2 linked regions of the Homo sapiens genome follow. The protein of the gene in region 1 purifies or fractionates together with the protein of each later gene. This does not show direct contact. Each region holds a gene or a part of one and is shown in the gene's direction. Other genes may lie near its edges.

Region 1 (6,831 bases):
GCGCCTAAGGCAGTGCCCAGCAGGAGTGAGGCTTATGAAAGAATTCTAGCATTGTCAGCATCCTGAGAGAGAAAGCAACACCAGCTTGTTTAAGCCACTGGTATTTGGAGTTTCTATTATGTTGAAACCTACATTTCACTTAGTAAAAGTGGAATTGTAGGCTGAGGCATGAGGATCACTTGAGGCCAGGAGTTCGAGAACATCTTGGGCAACATAGTGAGACTCCATCTCTACAGAAAATTTTAAAAATAAAAAAGAAGTGGTATTATGACATTTTTGTACTGTTTTAAATTTAAATTAACTTACAGTTTTTTAAAAACTAAAGTACTTATGAAAGAAAACAATGGGCTGCGTTGGATGGGAGAGGCTTCCGTCGGGAGCACAGCAGAAGCTGAGGAAACGCCCACTGAGGAGCGAAGGCAGGTGTGTTCGGCAAAGGCCAGCAAACAGGAGGGCTGCTGAGGGTGACTGGGGCAGCACTTCCTCTTCAGAGCAAAGCTCCTGGGCCCAGGGCAGCACCCCCGACTTAGCCAGGGTGAGGGACCTGCTGGACCCACAGGAAGGAGAAGAAACAGCCCATGGGCCTTCCGATTTGCATGTGGTACGAATGACCCCTGATTTAGGCCTCTATATTTACCGGTAATGTTTGTATTTTTATTTCTCCTTTTGTCATTTTTTAATTCAATCATTATTCCTCTTTCTCAGTTTAAATTTGCCATAAGTCTATATGAGATTAATTCCTTAAATTATAAAAACTCAAAGTCAGCTGAAGACTGAGCTAAGAAGAACCCCCCAGGTGGAAAACCTGGAGGAGGGGAGGGAGGAGTGGAGGGGGCTCTGGAATTCCCTGGCAGCACCCCCACCCAGCCCCGCTCACCCCCCTGCCCCGAGCTGCCCCTTTGATGATTGCTATGACAGCAATCACTGGATCACTCACTCTGCTCTGAGTCCGGGCTTCTCCCTGCCCCTGCTGTCTTCCTTTGATCTCCTGGACACCACCTTGTTTTCCAGCACACGGAAACCCCTGGGAATGCTGGCTTGTCTGGGGAGTCTCCTAGGGAAATGCCAAGCAGGGGGAATGGGGAGGGTCCCGAGGAAGTGATCCCAAAGCCCAGCAGGCGATCCTGAAACTGGCAGGCCCCGCTGAGCCTGGCCCAGCTTGAAACAGGCAGTGAGCAAGGTCGCACGGGACCTTTAGAGCATGTGGCTGAGTAGGCCGGGCAGTGAGGGACATGAGTCCGACCCCGGGGAGAGCACTCAGCTGGAGGGTCTGCGGGAGCTGGGGAGAGCGTCCTGTGTCCCGAAGAGTCACTGGGCTTCCCCTCGTCCACCGCCTCATGTTCAGCTTCACAGAAAAGGGCCAGTGGCTTGGTCCTGGTCGTTGCCAGCATTCTCTAATCATTCAAAGGAATGCGTTCAGAAATACAGGGCCTCGTTTCTGGAAAAGCAGGTCCATTTCAGTGAGGAGTTACTGGGACCTTCCTATGAGACCACATGGGTGTTCGGTGCCAGTGCCAGCAACACAAAGAGAGCACCAGACAAGTCCCGGTGGCCCCAGAGACAGACAGGCCAACGAGTGCCCAGGAAGAAGCTGAGTGAGACAGAACTCTTGCAAGGGGACTCAGGAGAGAAAGCCTCCCAGACCTGAGACCTGGGGATAGCCCTGCAGAGAGCTGTGAGCTGTGCCTGTGGGCTGGCCAGCCAGCCCCTCCGGGCCGTCCGGTTTCACTCTGGCCTCGGCAACATGTTGACCCACGTCTTCGGGGCTCCTCAGCCTGGAGCCCACATGTATTTCTCTTTACCTGGCTATGTCTTGATATTCCCGTCTCTCTCCACCTGGGAAGTGAGGCCATCCCAGGCCACTGGGGATTCAACAAGAAAATAGACACACTTGTAAGGGTCCATGGTGTCTGTACACCCGTGGTCTCACATCTGGGTGTGGGGATCCCTGTCCCCTCCTTGGCTGCACAGTGAGGACAGAGCTGGTGCCCAGGACCCTAAACCACTGCTCATGTAAGAGTGAGTGTGGGCACTCCCTTGGAGCACATGTGGGTATCGGCCCTCAGAATGGTGGGGGAGCCACTGGCAATTGGCAGGATGCCCCAAGTTTGTCAGCCGCTGAACTTACAAGGTGAGAGTGACCTCCATGGGCATTGCAGGCCTCTCTCAGGACACTCGCAACCTATTCCAGGCATCAGGATTCTAGTTCTCACAGCACCTTATGGCCTGCTCATCCCAAAACCCACAAAGGCATTTCCGCCCTCACTGACACCCCCTTCCTACCCCTACGTGCACCATCACTCTCCAGCTAAGAAACCACATTAGTTACGCTTCAGCTGCAGTTCCAGTGAACTCAACGCCATCAGAGAAAGGATACAGACTCCTTGGGTGATGTTTTTGGCACATCTGGCTGCTTTCCTGGAATTGTCACATTGAGTTGCTTTTTCTTTGCAAACAGGGTCTAGAAACAAACTCTTATTCTTTATCACCAGGCATGCTGTCTAAGCCTGTCCCCCATCCTGTGTGCCCCACAAAAGCCATTCTCATCCCCTGACCTCCATGCCCCTCAAGCTGAGTTACTTCTCATATGTGGTTTGGTCTGTATGCACTTCCCAGGAAGTATTCTGAACCTGCACCACTCAAAGTATGGTTCTGAGACCGGGAACACAACCATCCTCTGGAAGCTGGTGAGAAATGTAGTTTCCCTGGCCCTGCTCACAGCTACTGGGTCAGAATCTTTGGGTGGGGAAACTAGGAACTTGCTTTTTAACGTGACATCAGGGGATGCTGGTTGCTTCTGAAGTTTACAAGGAGCTACGGATAAACATCAAAGGCATATTTCACAGGGACAAAGCTTAAGTCTGGTCTGTGAAGAGTGCATTATTCAGTCTTTTGAGAGCCCCATTTGCGGTTGGAGTTGGAGGCTATGTGGGTCTTGGTCGAGAACTCAGAATCTCCACCCACAAACTGTGCCGCAGAGTGCTGTGCCGGCTGTGGCCACAGGAGGGAACCCGTGACAACCTAATGGGTGCACTTCAGCCATCCCTGAGGGCATCTTCGTCTTTCTGGTTCTCCACTGCTCCAATTGCAAGCGGCCACCCGTCCTGGAAACACCTTTGAGGAATAGGGGCAGCCATAACTAGCCAGGCCCCTAGTACCAGCACTTGGCAGCGCGTCCCTGGGCTGGGAAGCTGCATTTAGGGAGGTGCAGAGAACAGGGTTGGGGGCTCCTGCTCTTGATTTCCTCAACCTCTGCCCACGACCCCCAGGCTGGTGCCCCCCTCCCGAGACCCTCGGGGGAGCAGACACCTGCAGGACATCCCGCCAATCCTCCCGGGCTCCCCGCCTCTCTCTCAAGAGGCCCAGTGCTTTCTCGGGGCGCTGTACCTGCTCACCCATGATACTAGCATCCACTGTCATCCCTTTCCATCCTTTTGTCTCTGCCTTTCCACCTAACCTCCCCCTCCCAGCCCACCCCCACTGCTGAGTCCAGGGCTCACCTTCCACTCATACCTCTCACACTTGTGTTCCTGTGCCGGGCTCTGACTCTGGGGCGCCCAGTAGAGGTCTCCTTTAGCCTGCGGAGGTGCTGGGGCAGCTGGGGCTGGGCCTCATGTTCAGGGCACTATCTCTCCCATTGCTAGTCTTTTCCAACCCACCTGCCTGGGTGCTGTTCCTCTCCCCTAAACAGGAGATGATTTAAACGCCTTTGGAAGAAGGGAGGCCATGTGTGGGAGAGACAGGGTGTAACTGCAGAGGTGAGGCCTGGAGGGAGGAGTTTCTGCCCCAGCAGGTGAATTTAAAGGCCAGACCTGAGCCCTGGAAGGCTCCAGTGGACGCCAGGGATCTGAAGGGCAAAGGCAAGGGCTGCTGGAGCCTGCATCATGTCGAGTCCGCAGAGGAGGAAGGCTATGCCCTGGGCACTGTCACTGCTTCTCATGGGCTTCCAGCTCCTGGTGACTTATGCCTGGTGTTCTGAAGAGGAAATGGGTGGTAATAATAAAATAGTCCAGGATCCTATGTTCCTCGCCACAGTGGAGTTTGCCTTGAACACTTTCAACGTGCAGAGCAAGGAGGAGCATGCCTACAGGCTGTTGCGCGTCCTGAGTTCATGGAGGGAGGATAGCATGGACAGAAAGGTTGGTGACCACATCCTCTTCTGGCCTGTCCTTCTCCATCTGCCCCTAAGTGAGGGACCAAGATGTCTAGTCTAGGAGACTTGGTTCACCATCAGCAGTCCATAGTCAGGTAGTCCACAACCAATTACGGTAGTTTTAGTTTTGGAAAACATTGAACTTAAAATTTTTTTTAAATTAGGTAAATGTCTATTCACATGCAAAATATATTTTTCAATCTTCATGATTTTTAAGACATTGTATAACTGAAGAGTGACTTCAAAATAAGGACTTCTAAGGAGATGAAGCTGACAAGAAGAGAAAATAACCAAAGAGACTGATAAACATTTCCAGGTCATAAAATGAAAATGGAAAAGCAAGGACACACAGAGGGAGAGAGAGAGAGAGACAGAGAGAGACAGACAGACAGAGAGAGAGAGACAGAGAGAGAGAGAGACAGGCAGACAGAGAGAGAACAGTGAGAATTCGAGGGCAATAAAGAACACCATCAGCCCTGAGAGGCCACCGTGAAAGGTTAGTTCTCTGATCTCCACCTTCTCTGGGCTCCTTGCTCTGTCTGCACTTAATGAACTGAAGGCCAATTTACACTCTTCCTCAATGGACCTTTATCCTAAAATGCTTGCCTTTTTGATGAAATCATTAAATGTGGTCAGGAATGCACAGTTCATCTGGGCTTCAGGCATGAACAATTAAAATGCCCTCCTAGTGGAGAACTTCTGGTTTAGAGAGAGAAGGAGCATTGCTCTTCCTTTCTCAGCACCAAGAGCCTGAAAGAAAGGCAGAGGGACTCTAGTACCGCACAGAGCTTAAGCTCTGGAAAGACTCTGTGCAAGGCTCTGGCTGGTTCTCTGCCTCCTGGGGTGGATTCCTCACTGCCATCCTCAGGATTCCAATGCTGGTACAGAGGAATTTTCCTCCTTGCTCATTTGCTGCCTCCTCTCAGGAGAATTAAAAGCCTGATGCAACCCTCAGAGGGGCATCTGGTCCAGTAATGGTGGCTGCTAATATTCATGCTGGAACCTTGGAAGTCTCAGAGATTGAGATTGGCCAGGCCTCATGCTTCTGCTTTCCCAGTGCTTTGCTTGATTCTCCAAGACCTCAGTGTAAGCCTCCATTCTTAATACCGTTAGAATAAAATCTAAGCTCCTTACTATGGTCTATAAGTCCTAAATGACAGTAAGTCCTAAAAGCTTTCCACATGGCTTCCTGGATATGGCAATCCCAGCATCAGTTTGGGGGCTGGGAAGAATAGATGGGTGAGAGGGAGGCTATGGAGTGGAATTAAATAGAATGGAGTGGGAAGGAGGGCAAGGAGAACTTCAGCATGCACTTTGCAATAGGGCAGATGGTATTTCTTGAACCCATTTTCCCAGGGTGTGTGCCTGTGTGTAGTGGGAGCGCTGTGTGTCATTCTTCTTGCTGGAGGTCACTTGGAAGGTTTGACAACACACTGTAGATGAGGCTCCCTCTGTCCCAGGGCTGAAGTTACCCTGAAAACTCTTGGAGATCCAACACCCTCCCGGACATGTGGCTCTGTCCTCTGGGAATGCAGCTGCAAGATCAGATGCCTACTGAGAGTGAAGCTGGAGTCTCACCGTGGGAAATGGGGGTGGGTGGAGGTGGATAATGTGTTAGTGGGGTCTGACTCAGCCTGCATCCTCCCCAGACCCACCATGCCCACCTGCTTTTTGCTCTTAACTCCTCAGTCTAGAGAAGATCCCCTGGGTTTCACCTCCAGTGAGCTGATGCCAGGCCCATGGGCAAGCTCTCAAATGCAGTAAAGTGTTGGGGCCTCTCCTACTCAAATGGCATCTTCACTAGTAGCTACTTAGGGGCAGGAAGACGGTGCATCCACTTTAATCTTCTTTTGTCCAACAGTGGCGAGGTAAGATGGTGTTCTCCATGAATCTGCAACTGCGCCAAACCGTATGTAGGAAATTTGAAGATGACATTGACAACTGCCCTTTTCAAGAAAGCCTGGAGCTGAACAACGTAAGACAGGGCATCAGCTTTCCTCAGGTCCACAGCTGTGGATGCTGCATGGGGTGTGGTGTGGGCACAGGAGCAGCTGACAAAGCCATTCCGAGGGACAAAGGGAAGTGAGCCCACAGCAGGCTGTACCAGGCTGCCCTGCTTGTGCCTTAGTGGGAAGCCCAGTGAGGCATTAAGCCCAGGGGTTCACTTTCAGGCCCCTGGCCAATCTGAGTTTCCTGATTCTGCCCTCTGACACCATTGCAGCTGCCTGCACCTGGGCCACATGGCCTTCAGAACCTTCTCTCTGGTCTTCCTCCCCACTTCTTCCCTGCCTTCTAGAGAAAGAGCCTGGAGACAATGGTGACAATGTCTGTGGGTACTTTTCTCAGGGTTTCCCTACCCTGCCCTAGACCCAAAAGTGGTGGAGGCTGAGAAGAAGCCCCACTGCCCTCGCTCCTAGGCCCTGCTGAGCTGCAGCACCTGCTCTAGGGGACGAGCTCCAAGCAAAGCCTGGCTCTGGGAAAACTTCCCATTCTTAGTCAACCCCCTTATTGTAAGATTAACAAATAGGTAACTAATTGCCTAAGTCTGGGAACTGCTTCCACTGGGACAAAACATTCTCCTGCTGCTCTTGGATGCAGGGATCACACCAGGACAGCCTGGGGTTCCCCTGAGGGGCACGGGCTGGAGGAGGAGGCATGGCACAAGTGACCCTGGCTAA
Region 2 (7,718 bases), on another chromosome or scaffold:
GTTTTTCTTTCAGCTCTACATCATTCACAGCCGGGCCTGGTGGCTCATGGCTGTAATCCCAGGACTTTGGGAGGCTGAGGTGGGTGGATCACCTGAGGCCAGCAGTTTGAGACCAGCCTGGGCAACATGGTGAAACCCCGTCTCTACTAAATATACAAAAATTAGCCAGGCGTCATGGCACCCTCCTGTAGTCCCAGCTACTCAGGAGGCTGAGGCAGGAGAATCACTTGAACCCGGGAGGCAGAGGTTGCAGTGAGCCGAGATCGCACCACTGCACTCCTGCCTGTGCGACAGAGAGAGGCTCTGTCTCAAAAAATAAATAAATAAATAAATAAATAAATAATTTGTTCATTCACTCACTCATTCAACACTACTGGATCCCAGAGACAAAGAACAATGTGGTCGCTGCCTTTGAGGAGTCTAGTTGAGAAAAAAGATGAAAACGAATTAAAAATTACAGCACGACATGAGTGAGCAGAGGAGGAAGTTAGGAAATTACTGGTTTGCCTAAGGGAGGCAGGGAAGGCTTACAGGAGTACAGGGAACCCGAATTTTGACTTTACTTTCCTATGCTCCACCTAAGCAGAAGGAAGAGTATGCACAAAGGCACAGGGGCAGGAATTAATACAGTACAAGGAAGCCCAGGGTGCGCTGGCAGGAAGAGTCCGTATGCTGGAAAAGCACGTTGGGCCTTAAAGTTACATTTCATCCTACAAGCCCCAGGAGGCTGGGGTGATGAGAGCTTGCTTTTCTTTTTTTTTTGAGAGGGAGTCTCGCTCTGTCACCCAGGTCTGGACGCGATCTCGGCTCACTGCAAGCTCCGCCTCCCGGGTTCACGCCATTCTCCTGCCTCAGCCTCCCAAGTAGCTGGGACTACAGATGCCCACCACCACGCCTGGCTAATTTTTTTGTATTTTTAGTAGAGACAGGGTTTCACCATTTAGCCAGGATGCTCTCGATCTCTTGACCTCGTGATCCGCCCATCTCCGCCTCCCAAAGTGCTGGGGTTACAGGCGTGAGCCACTGCACCCGGCCAAGAGCTTGCTTTCCTTATCTTAATTCAGGTTTACTGAAGTATAATTTATATAGAAGTAAAAACCACCCTTTGGCTGGGTGCGGAGGCTCACGCCTGTAATCCCAGCACTTTGGGTGGCCGAGGCGGGTAGATCACTTGAGGTCAGGAGTTCGAGACCAGCCTGGCCAACATGGTGAAACCCCGCCTCTACTTAAAATACAAAAAATTAGCCGGGCGTGGTGGTATGCACCTGTAATCCCAGCTACTTGGGAGGCTGAGGCAGGAGAATCGCTTGAATCCGGGAGGCGGAGGTTGCAATGAGCCGAGATCACACCATTGCACTCCAGCCTGGGGGACAAGAGCGAGACTTCATCTAAAAAAAAAAAAAAAAAAAAAAACCACCCTTTTAGGTGTATAGTTCTATGAGTTTTGACAGATTCACAGAGTCATCCAGTAATGTAAATACCACAATCAAGTTAGAGAATATTCTCATCATCTCAAAAAGTGTGATCAGTCCACCCTTCCCCAGCTCCAGTTGCCAGTAACCATTGATCTAATTTCTGTCCCTATACTTTAATTTTTTACTTTGAAATAATCATTTACCCATAGGTAGTTGCAAAGAGGGCCCAGGTACACTTTCTCAAATGGGAACATCTTACAAAGCTATGGAAAAATATCAAAAGCCAGGAAACTGACATTGGTACAATACTATCAAGTAGACTACAGACCTTATTCAGATTTCACCAGTGCTTACATCCATTAGCTTATTTGAAAAAACATAATTGGGCCATAGTATGAAAGAAGGGTCAGCCTAGCAAAAACACGCATTAGTTACAGTTGTCCACAGAAGAAAGGAGAACTCAGGAGGGTGCAGAGAGAGGAAGGGACTGGAGGAAAACATTTCTGGAGTGGAACAAAAATCATTTGGTAGACAATTTGGTATAAGGATTTAAATTAATCCTTCTTGATCTTCTTTTCTTTTTTGAGACAGAGTGTCACACTGTCACTCAGACTAGGATGTGGTGGTACAATCACGGCTCACTGCAGACTCGACCTCCTGGGCTCAAGCAATCCTCCCACCTCAGCCTCCTGAGTATTTGGGACCAAAGGCGGATGCCACCACGCCCAGCTAATTTTTTTTTTTTTTTTGAGACGGAGTCTCACTCTGTCATCCAGGCTGGAATGCTCCCAGGTTCAAGCAGTTCTCTGCCTCAGCCTCCCAAGTAGCTGGGATTACAGGCGCGTGCCACCACATCAGGCTAATTTTTGTATTTTTAGTAGAGATGGGGTTTCACCATCTTGGCCAGGCTGATCTTGAACTCCTGACCTCGTGATCCACCTGCCTCGGCCTCCCAAAGTGCTGGGATTACAGGTATGAGCCACTGCTCCTGGCCGCTAATTTTTATATTTTCCGTAGAGATAGGGTTTCGCCCAGGCTGGAAATTAATCCTTTTTTTGGAAATGAAATTTCCCATATGGCAGGGCAGCAAGCAAAAGGTTGTTTTAAATTGAACAGCCTGACCGCTAAGTGAATGAAGGTCATGAAAACCCCAAATAACCATAATATTTCTGCTTACTCTTATTTAAAGAGGAAAAAAAATGGTTTAGTTACTCTCTCCTTACTCTTGCCTGACTGAAAAAAATGAAGTAACTGTCGAAAACAAAGTTATCTGTTTAGTTAGCTAACCCTCTGCAAAACCAAGCAAATGAAATCTCTATATTTACTCTTAGTCCCTCCTGCAGTTCAGTACTGTTGTAGGCTTTCCTATCTGCTCCACCATTTTATCAGACTACAGCACTGATAATGCCTTAATCTCTATACAATTTATTTATAGACATCACTTACCCATCAGGAGACAATGGGATCAGCGTTGTTCTCCCCATTTTTACAGCCCAAGAAATTGAGGCTCCTGATACCCAGGATCACATATGCCAACACCGTAAAATGCTCAGAAAGGCATCGACACAGAGCTTTACTTAATACCCTTCTTTCTACTCCACCACACCCCATTTACGGCCAGGTTGGATCTCTTTCTACAAGAGAAATGGAATAAATTTGTGCAGGAGCTCCATACAGGCAATAAAAATATCTCTGGTGACAAAGTCCTCATTTAAACTCCAGTTTGTTTATCACTAGTTACTACCAAATACAGTCCCTTGGGAGTTCTGAGTGACCCAAAACCTACTTCCTGGACTTCAAGATGAGCTTTTAGTTTCTTTGAAATCAGGAAGTGTCTTAAAACCAGATTCAATGAAATACGGTAACAATCTTTTTACTGTGTCCTGTGCTAGGTATTTTATATGCATTTTAGCACTTAACCTCCAAACCTCTTATTATTAAACCTCTGTTGTTACGTCCATTTTAAAGATAGAAAAGTCAGGGCACAGAGAGGTTTAGAGATCACACAGCCAGCAAATGGTGGACAGTATAAGAGTAACCTCAAAGCAAGCAGTACCCCAGATTCCAATTTCAGTTGACTTAGCCTGGTAACAGTTCAATTTTATGCAAAACCCACAACTTCAAATGGAAAAAGATAAATTAAAACAACCACAAAAACCAGACAAATGGAGGCTCAGCAGGCCTTGTAGCTCATCCACGGTTACACAGAGGATCTCAGAGCCAAAATTCCATGGCCGATCCGTCTTGACTTCAAAGCGCGATCTATTTCCACCAAACCACGGAACCATCGACACGTGGTAAGGGGCAGTACAAAGATTTGTTGAATTAATAATGCCTGAAAACAAATTGACAATAAGAAGGTAAAAATGGAAAACACAGATAAAATCGGAAAAGCAGACCACTTTCAGGAAACAAAAAACTCCAAATTTTCAAGGCAGGGCATTCACGGTGAGCCAAGGCGCTGGGACAAAGTTTGCGCGGGTACCGCCGGACTCCCGGGCTGCCCGGCGCGGAGTCTTTAACGGAGATGGTTCGCAAGGAATCGGCCTCGGAGCCCGGCAGCCTCCTGGCTTCCCTCCTGACCACCAGTAACCCGGCCGGGAAACACTGGCGAAGACCGGGGGCCAGTCGCCTTCCCTTTCTGGGCTGTTGGCTTAAAATACACACAAACACAAGTCCCCAGGCGGTCCGCGGCCTCTCAGTGGGGCTGGAGCTCGCTGCCCGAGGCCCGCCCGGAAGCCATGCACCTGCGGACAGGAGTCTCTCCGAGTCGCAGCTCGCCGCCGAGAAGCACCCACCTCCCGCGGCCGGCGCAGCCCAAGGCCCTGGCCCCTATAGCCCGGCCTAGGCCCGCCCCAGGCGGGGCTAGGGGCGGCGTGGCGGGCGGGCGCCCCTCGGGCCGCGCCGGTGAGCAGCGGGAGCCGGCGCCGGGCATTTCCTCTTCCTCCCTACGCGCGGCGCGGCGGCGGCGGCGGCGGCCAGGCCGAGGCTGGGCACGGGCGCCCGATCGCGGCCTGCTGGCTAGCGCGGGCAAGCGCCGCGCCCCGAGCCGCCGTCGCCGCGTCGCCCCCGTCGCGACCGCCGGCCGCGGGGCCTCCGGGCGGCTGGGCCCGGCGAGGGCAGCGAGAGGCGGGGCTGGCGTGCGGGCGGCGGAAGGAGGCGGAGGAGGAGGAAGAGGAGGAGGAGGAGGCGGCGGCCGGGAGCCGGGGGAGAGGGGCGGGGGGTGGGCCGGGGGAGGGGAGGAGCGGGATTTGCGGAGCGCCGCGCCGCTGCCGGGAGCCGGCAGGCCCGAGAGTGACCGGAGTCACGGCGGGCGCCGGCGGAGCTGCGGCGTCGGACCCGCCTCCTGGAGGAGCTCAGCCCCGACCAGGCCCGGCCCCATTCCCGCCCCGCGCCGCCTCCCCGCCGCCGCCGCCGCCGCCGCCGCGGGAGCGCTCCCCTGCCCACCCCGCCCCCGCGGCCGAGCCCGGGAGTCGAGTGGGAGTCGGCCGGCCGGCGCGGGCAGCGCCGGGACCCCGCGGGGGACACTGCAGCCGGAGCCCGGGAGGGGCCGCGCCGCCACCGTCTGAACTAGGATGTCCCGACATGAAGGTGAGAGGAGCCCCCGCCCCCACCCGCACCTCCCGGGCCTCGGCCTACCCCGCCCGGGCCGGGCGCGGCGGAGGGCGGCCGGGAAGCGGCGGAGACTTTGGCCGAGCCCGAGCCGGGCCCGAGGCGCTGGACCCGGGAGCGAGCGAGCGAGGGCGGAGAGCCGCGGCGCCGCTGCCGCCACGGCCGCGGCCCTTAGCTGGGCCTGGTGCTGGAGGCGGGGCGGCCCGGGCGGCCGGAGGGTTTGCACTGTCATGGGGCGGAGGGGGAGGGGAGGCGGCGGGGCCCGTTACCGGCGGGAGCTCGGCCTTCGGGACTGATACCGGACGCCAAGGCCCGCCCGGCCGGTTCAGGAGCCGCGGGCCCCAGCGCGGCCTAGCGCTCCCGCCGCCCCGGAAGAGCCCGGTGTGGTCGCAGAGCCGGGCCGCGGGCGGCAGCAGGAGGCAAAAGAGCCGGCCCGGGACCCGGCAGGCGCGTCCGGTCGCCGGGAGACGACGGCGAGTGTCCCCGCCTGCGGGCGACCGCGGGGCTGGCGGGAAGGCTCTGCGGCCAAGGGACGGGAAGCCCTCGCCGCCTGGAGCCCGCCCCGGCCTCGCGGCTAGGCCTCGGCGCGTCCCTGGGCTCGGGTAACCAAGTTCCCGGGGTGGATCCGACCCCGCCGCAGCAAGCAAACTCCCTGCTCAGTCACCCAGGCGGAGCAGGGCTCGCTCCCCGCGGCCCTGGTGCCCTCGCCGGCATGTGCTGCCTACCAGACCAGGTTTTGGAAAATGACGATGGTGAGGTCTGTTCATGGTCGGGGGTCGTTTTGGACCTTGTTTTGCCATTTTAAAACACGATTGGAGTACAGTTGCAAATAAGCAGACAGCTCTAAGCCCAGTCCCAGGGCACAAAGAGACAAATGTTTAGGGTCGATGTATAGGCTTTGAGCTGGTAAGAAATAAGTTAACTTTAATTTATTGCCATATGGTTTAGAAAAGGAGGAGGGGGTTGTGTTTTCTTTGTTTCACTACTACAGGTTTTTGGATAAAAAGTGTTAAGAGTCTTGGCGAAAAGTTTGTCCTGCTAAGGTTAATACAAGATTGTAGAAGTGGCTTGAAAGTTTGTGTACTCCGGATTTTAAAATCCTGTATAGGTGATGTAGGAGTGGAGAAAGTTTAGTGAGTCAGTTTAGTGTGTGCTTAGCACTATGGGAAGGATATTCTTTGGGAAATACGGACCTTAGAATTTCAAGGCTGAAAAACTCAGATTGATTAAAATTGTATTTAGAACAAGTTTCAAAATTCGCATTACTAATTGCGACGTTGAAATTGACTCAACATTCTGTGTTCAACGATTCTGTATTTTAAAAGTTACAAAACTAATATGAAATATACTATATTTTCTTCGCAAAGCATTTGTTGAGTACTTACAGTGTTCAAGTGTTGGGCATTTTGAAATAATGAGGTACCTAGCCTCATTGAAAGGGACACAGAAGTAGGAAGCTATGCCTCTTTTCCCCACTTCGTCTGCTTAATCGAAATGTATCCTTATCTCTGTAATTTTAAGAACTCGTAATTAAAGTTATAATCAGTTTTCAATTTGGGATATTAAAGTTTATCTTAAACTGTAGTCCTGTGTACATTGACCACCTTCAAGACAAAACAAAAGTGAGCAATGGCTGCAAGCTCTCTTACTCTTGAAAACTGGGAGGGTTAGTTAGAGAATCACAGCCATGGAAGAGTGTTTCAGACCCATTCTCCTTGGTCTAAGAAAGCATACAGATAGTTCCAGACGAGCATTCTAATTGAAGTGTCCTGGGAAGAAAATTCCTTCACCCCCAGTGCTCTGTTAGAGTAATTAAAATCTCATATTTGGAACATTCTTGAATGTAACATATATTCTGTAATTTAAGCCCATTTCCCCCCATTTGGTGCTGTGCAAAGGTGTGTGGTTATGAAACTTATATTACCTTTTAGTTACTTGAATATTGCTGAACCTCAGCACACTAGTAGCACACCTTTCCTAGTAACTTATGTTAATGTCAGTAAATAGAACATACCTAATGAAAAAGGAACATACCTAAATACATCTGTTGAAGACTTATAGTACAATATTCGACAAGTGATTCTCTTTCAAGGGTCTAGTTTATGGCCTAAGACAGGAATAGCAGTCTCACGAATCACATTTAACTCATTAGATACATATTTTGTGGAATATTAGTTCAGACTGTCATTATTGTCATCAGTAAGACTTTGACCTATCAGTAAATACAGTGTTTGGCACCCTTGCTATTAGTTCTTTTCTTACCTTTGCCTTTTTTGGGCCAAAGAATCCCATTTCTTTCAGCATTTCTTTCTTTCTTTCTTTTTCTTTATTTCTTTCTTTTTTTTTTTTTTTTTTTTTTAGCTGGAGTCTCACTCTGTCACCAGGTTGGAGTGCAGTGGCGTGATCTCGGCTCACTGCAACTTCCACCTCCCAGATTCAAGCAGTTCTCCTGCCTCAGCCTCCCAAGTAGCTGGGATTACAGGCGCCTGCCACCACACCCATCCAATTTTTGTATTTTTAGTAGAGATCGGGTTTCATCATGTTGGTCAGGCTGGTCTTGAACTCCTGACCTCAGGTGATCCACCCGCCTTGGCCTCCCAAAGTGCTGGGATTACAGGCGTGAGCCACCACGCCCAGCCTCCGTGTTTCTTTAGTGGTGTAATTTTTGCACTCTCAGTCATCTGTCCACCT

Evidence for each region.
Region 2: the proteins of CST9 (region 1) and KCMF1 purify together in Homo sapiens (affinity purification with mass spectrometry; 3 studies listed by BioGRID and IntAct, with this or other methods). This does not show direct contact.

Annotation. Positions count from the first base shown.
Region 1 is NC_000020.11:23,602,918-23,609,748, reverse strand, and holds the start of CST9 (cystatin-9 precursor), read left to right. Parts: upstream 1-3,831; 5' UTR 3,832-3,884; coding exon 3,885-4,139; intron 4,140-6,014; coding exon 6,015-6,239; 3' UTR 6,240-6,831. UniProt on the Homo sapiens protein: May be involved in testis development. May play a role in hematopoietic differentiation or inflammation. Has immunomodulatory and antimicrobial functions against Francisella tularensis, a Gram-negative bacteria.
Region 2 is NC_000002.12:84,966,462-84,974,179, forward strand, and holds the start of KCMF1 (E3 ubiquitin-protein ligase KCMF1), read left to right. Parts: upstream 1-4,699; 5' UTR 4,700-4,990; coding exon 4,991-5,006; intron 5,007-5,389; exon of another isoform or gene 5,390-5,739; coding exon of another isoform or gene 5,740-5,779; intron 5,780-7,718. UniProt on the Homo sapiens protein: E3 ubiquitin-protein ligase which accepts ubiquitin from an E2 ubiquitin-conjugating enzyme and then transfers it to targeted substrates, promoting their degradation by the proteasome.